2 separate regions of the Homo sapiens genome follow, and region 2 is linked to region 1. Evidence: fine-mapped expression QTL. A gene starts in region 1. The other region holds a variant in brackets. All regions are shown on one strand. Distances are from middle to middle.

Region 1 (2,917 bases):
ATGTTACTATTGTGTCATGCAGGCACAGAAGATAAACCAAATAATAAGAGAAATATGGCCGCGGCCTTTGGGAATCTCATTTTCTAATCAGCAGAATAGGAATATTTTAGCATGATCCCCTCACTACCCCTAAAAACCAAGGGGCCAGTAAGGAGGATAGTGGGACAATGTAATCCTCGCACAGGAAAAGTACTGTACAGCAGCAGTACCACTATAACCAACTTCAATCAGAGTTCTCCACGAAGCAATATAGCTAGTACAAGAAATTGAGAAAAAAGCTGAAAACAATAACTATTTTTGACAAAAAACCCACTTTTAAAAATAATAAAGCTCTATCCAATGCATCACAAAATATTCCCAGAAAGCTTCCTGTACACCAAGTATTGTGTAGGATAAAAAGCACAGTCCTTTTCCCATCCAGAGCCATTAGAGAAGATTAAAAACAAGTTACATTAATACAAAAAAAAATAGTTAACATCAGAAGTGATGCCACACTGTTATTTGGCAAAGACATGGCATAACTAAGAGCTGCGAGTTGAAAAATGAACAACACCATGGGCTAGAGAACCTTGGGAAAGTTCAACAGAATAGGTGTGACTTGACAAAGTCCTTTCTACCATTTACAGGTAGAAGAGAGGCGGAACAAAACTGAAGGCGGTTATGGAAGACAGGACAGCGCCTGTGATGCTTGGGAGCAAGAAGTATGCTCCCCAGAAAACTGTGGAGGGATTTAACCAAGCCAAAGAATCTGCACCTTCATTTGGAGGGTGAGAAACGAGTTAAAGAATGTGCACCCTCACTTGGGTTCTAGCGGGGCGAGGGTGTTACCTGATGCTTGTGAGAATGCAGTTCCCTCAATCAGCGGGCCAAGAACCAAGAATAAAGTTTCATTTGCCGACTAGAAATACCCGTATTATTACATGAAACGCTACAGCAGATTAGCAGACAAATGCCAAACTGGCCATAAAACAACATAAGCAACACCTGCTCTCAGGTTTTTCAAACTGACGCCGTCCCAGCGCCCCTGGTAAAGAGAATGATTAAGCTTCCACTCTGGGGCCGCAGCTCATCTTTCACCAAGAAACCTCGGCGAACCTGCGACTGACGCGTTGCCAGCCTCCGCAAGAACAACTCTGCCCAGCAAGTGGAGCTGGGGATGAGGGAAAACTTCATGATAAGGGTAAAGAACTCGAACCCAGGCTCTGCGGACGTCCCCAAGCTGTCCGGGTCCCTGGACCCCGCAGGAATCAAGGGGAACCGAGAGAGGACGGAGGAGAACGCGAGAGGCCGGATCCACCCCTACAGATGAAGATCCAAAGTGAGTCAAGTCCTCCGCGACCCGCCCCCTGAGGAGCTGGCTACTCTAGGGTATCCTGGCCGGCCCCTCTCCTCCTCTGCACCCCAGCCCTCGGCCGCGGCTCCCTCGAGCGCGCCCAGGTGCCCTTCTCGAACCCCTCACCCATGATGAACCCCCTGTCCTCCCTCGCCGATCTTCAGTGATTCCTTGGCCTTCGGCTGCAGCTCCGAGGCGGTTTCCTCGCAAGCCCAGTCAGCCAGCAACTTCCACGTCGGACTCCAGGCGGGGGCGGGAGCGAGGGTCAGCTGCGACTGCGCGCCGGGAACGGTGGCCTGAGCATCCGCGTCGTCGCTTTCGACTCACGGTCCCCGCTCACTGGATGTAGATACCGTGGAGGCCAGAAGAGACGAATAATTCAAAAACCTGAAGTCTCTCCTGCTTGTGTTTTTCTGGACAGAAAGAGCTTCTGAAATAGAGAAATTGGAATTTTTGTTTTAAATTCTGACACCAAAAAGTGGCGAATCTGACAACTGAAAATGCGAGTCGGGCCTCGATGAGTCGTCCCGGTCGAACGCTGGCGCAGGCTGCGGCGTTGCAGAGGACGCGTGTCCCGGAGCGCCCTGCGGGGCCAGCCCAACTCTCCCTAGGTGCTTTCTCCCAGAAAGAAACAAGACTACGTAATAATAATAGGAATGGTACCGCGCTGCCAATGCGGAGCAGCCTTGCACCTGAGGCCAGTAACCAGAGGTTTTTGTCTTCGCTGTGGCCTGCAGGACGAGGACCTCGCCGGCTTTTTTTCTCGCTGACCGAGCAGCTGAGACCGCCTTTCAGGGGTCGGCAGTGTGGACTGGCTGGTCCCGATCGTGGGGACCAGGGACTTATTCCCTCGAGGGTCGACTGTTGGAAGTAATGTAGGTTTTGATAGTGAAGTGTGTGGAGAGGAAGAAGGAAGCACACCTATAGGATGTGGAGAAGGGATTTCCCCTAGAGAAATTTTTAAAGGTTGAGCATGTATGTTTTGAAACTTCCCAAAGATCCATTGAAAAGTGAACCTTCCGGCCGGGCGCGGTGGCTCACGCCTGTAATCCCAGCACTTTGGGAGGCCGAGGCGGGCGGATCACGAGGTCAGGAGATCGAGACCATCGTGGCTAACACGGTGAAACCCCGTCTCTACTAAAAATACAGAAAATTCACCAGGCGTGGTGGCGGGCGCCTGTAGTCCCAGCTACTCAGGAGGCTGAGGCAGGAGAATCACTTGAACTCAGGAGGCAGAAGTTGCAGTGAGTCGAGATCGTGCCACTGCACTCCAGCCTGGGCGACAGAGCGACACTCCGTCTCAAAAAAAAAAAGAGAAAAGTAAACCTTCCATCCCTAATACCCTGTATCTCGGTGATCCCCAGTAGTCACTACTGTTAATACTCTCTTAGGTTTTCTTCCAAATCTTATTAATACCTTTGCATATTATGTTTTTATTTATGGTAGAGATTTTCATCCATTCAACAGAAGCTTATGGACTGCCTTTTTAGTTTATTTTAAAAGAATTTTTCTAGCTTTAAATAAAAATTGTATATATTTACAGTGTACCATGTGATGTTTTCATAGTTGTATATGTTGTGAAAT
Region 2 (2,917 bases), 43 kb before region 1:
TTTTCAGTGACTGCTTATGTTGGCATATCTTGCTGAGTGCATATAATTGCCATTTGTCCTTTTTCTTCCAAAGATTTTTAACCATGAGTTGTTTGGTGCTGTTGCTGAAGAGAAGGAAGTAAAGCAGATCCTCTCCAAAGTCATGGAAGCACGAAGAAGCAAAAGTTACGACTCTTATGAAATCCTCGGCAAGTTTGTAGGAAAAGATCAGGTTACAAAACTCATCCTTCCATTAAAAGAGGTAAGGACGTAAATGCAATTCTGGAGATCACAGCATTACAATCTCATGAGTTCCTAAAAGGAACCATGCGGGGCAAACTGAAACACTGTTCTTGATCACCCATGATTTCCTTTGGTGATAGGGCCCCAGGACCATATGGCCAGTGAGTGAATGCTTTGATTCAAAAATCATAGTCCCCTATGTAAACCATGAGATGAGAAAGAAAGGCAACAAGAATTGAGTGCAGGTGAATATTATAGCTGGGTCAAGTCAGCAGCTAAGAACATGAAGAAATCCAGAGGCACACAAGCCGCATAGTGCTTATCTTTGAGGTTGAGGTTGTGAGTAACATTTCCTTATATGTTATGTCCATGTTTGAAATTTTATTAAGAATTTGTTTTAGGCCAAGCATGGTGGCTCACACCTGTAATTCCAGCAATTTGGAAAGCCAAGGCGGGAGGAATTGCTTGAGCCCAGGAGTTTGAGACCAGCCTGGGTAACATAGCAAGACCCTGTCTCTATTTAAAAATGTATATTTACATTTACAAAGAAATTCATTTTAGTTAGGAGTAAATATATATTAGAAAGCCTTTGGACAAATTGCCACTTCCAGGTTGCCAAGAGGAAGAAAACTGGCATTTATTGACATATTATATTCTAAGCACTGCTACATTATCTCTCCTAATCTGCACACCCTGTGAGATTGATGGTACTTCCATTTTACAAATAAGAAAATTCAGGCTTGGAAAGGTAGAAAGGAACATGGTTAAAGAGAAAAGTCAGGGTATAGGGTTTAGTTCCAGATCTTTCTGATCCAAGTTCACATTCCTACCATGGTTTCATTCTGCCTCCTGAAGATCAGGGAATGTAATTTACCCACCTTCCTATTGATTTCTGTGCCTGTTGCAGAGGTGAACATCCAGTAAATGTTATTAATTTATTAGTTTTGTGTATTAAAACTAGAGCAAAGAGCACTATCTATTGACATGAATTACATTAGGTCTAAATGTTCTGGTGCTAGATGAACTCCATAATTACTCCTAGAATGCATTTAGTTTTATGTGAGCCTTATCTAAGAATGTTAGATGCATTTTCAGGATGAAAAAGAGTCAACAGAGCACATATATCCGTGATGTATATTAAAAAGTCCCTCCAAGGTATTGAGAGTTAATACCATGTCTCATGCAAGATAATAGCTCTGAAGCACCAAGTATTTC[C/G]TGAGGTTGCTGATCCTGGTTCCCATTAGGTTCCTCTGATTTGGCCCAATAATTGATATCAGACCCTGAGGCTTGGCCATAGTAGCACTTCATTCTCGTGGTTTTCTATGAGGAGTGAATACATTTTGTTGATTGTGTGTGTGTGTGTGTGTGTGTGTGTGTGTGTGTGTGTTTGCCTCTAAGTCACCCCTGTTAATGTACCAGGAGAGTTGATGTTAACTTAGAAGTCTCATATCTCTGGCATTGTGCCCTGAGGCCTCACCAGCAGAGAACAGGGAGGGAGTGGAGGAAACCCCGAGGCTCACAAGCCTGCACAGTGGTTCTTCCTGGGATTGAGATTATAGTTAACTTTCACCTTATATGTTATATCTGTGTTTGAAATTATATTAAGAATGCTTTTTAATTAGGAGAAAGCCAAACGTATATTAGAAAGCTAATATATAAAAGAAAACTGCCATTATGACAAATCAAAATGCATTTCTGTGTCATCTCAGCATGACATTTATGTTTTGCCTTTAGATCTTACAAAATACCACGAGTTTGAAACTGGCCCGGAAAGTTCATGAAACTTTACGCCGAATCACAGTGGGATTAATTGTAAATCAGGAAATGACAGCTGAATCCATTCTATTACTCAGTTATGGTTTGATCAGTGAAAATCTTCCCCTGTTAACAGAGAAAGAAAAGTAAGTTGGAAAAAAAACAAACTGTCATTTAGGTCTCTGCGTCTGATAAGCCATTCTGTGGGTTGTTTTAATAATTTGCTTTAGTAAAAAATAAAATTATATCCACCTGAGTTCTCAGATGGTACTTTATGGTGTGATACATTTCAACATGAGATTTTCTCATAAATGAGGTAGCAGTGACAACAGCCAATTATTTTGGCATTTCTCTGATACCATTTTTTAAAAAGATTTATTGATTCAAAGATAGGATAGATTTTAAATCTGTATCTTGTATTTTGATTAAACAGAGATTGAGACCTTAAAAGATTTTAAAATATCTTACAGGCTGGGCACAGTGGCTCATGCCTGTAATCCCAGCACTTTGGGAAGCTAAGGAGGGCAGATCACCTGAGGTCAGGAGTTCAAGACCAGCCTGGCCAACTTGGTGAAACCCCATTCTCTACTAAAAACACAAAAATTAGCCAGGCATGGTGCTGGGCACCTGTAATCCCAGCTACACAGGAGGCTGAGGCAGGAGAATCACTTGAACCCGGGAGGCGGAGGTTGGAGTGAGCCGAGATCGCGCCACTGTACTCCAGGCTGGGCAACAGAGCAAGACTGTCTCAAAAAACAAAATCTTATATATTAGTAAACTTCATTTTGGTCTTGCTTCTATGGTCTAAGAGAGACTCGTTGGCATTTATTTTCAGAAATCAAACAAGGGAGTATCCTGCTGTTGATCCTAATATAAATATGTTGTCCTAGTAACCTTAATCAACAGCCTAATAATCTCTTCTGTATCTCATGGTTTGGGG

Evidence for each region.
Region 2: its variant is fine-mapped to the expression of ARL1 in whole blood (INTERVAL, PIP 0.98).

The regions. Positions count from the first base shown.
Region 1 is chr12:101,406,183-101,409,099 of GRCh38, forward strand. ARL1 (ARF like GTPase 1) reads right to left here and starts at 1,590. Exons shown (of 6, transcript NM_001177.6): 1 at 1,460-1,590. The coding sequence starts at 1,463. RefSeq lists enhancers at 1,073-1,122, 1,203-1,252.
Region 2 is chr12:101,363,503-101,366,419 of GRCh38, forward strand. UTP20 (UTP20 small subunit processome component) reads left to right here. Exons shown (of 62, transcript NM_014503.3): 45 at 74-241; 46 at 1,957-2,123. Among named protein-coding and RNA genes, the nearest start is that of ARL1, 43 kb to the right of the region's middle. The variant C/G (reference allele first, on the strand shown) is at 1,438.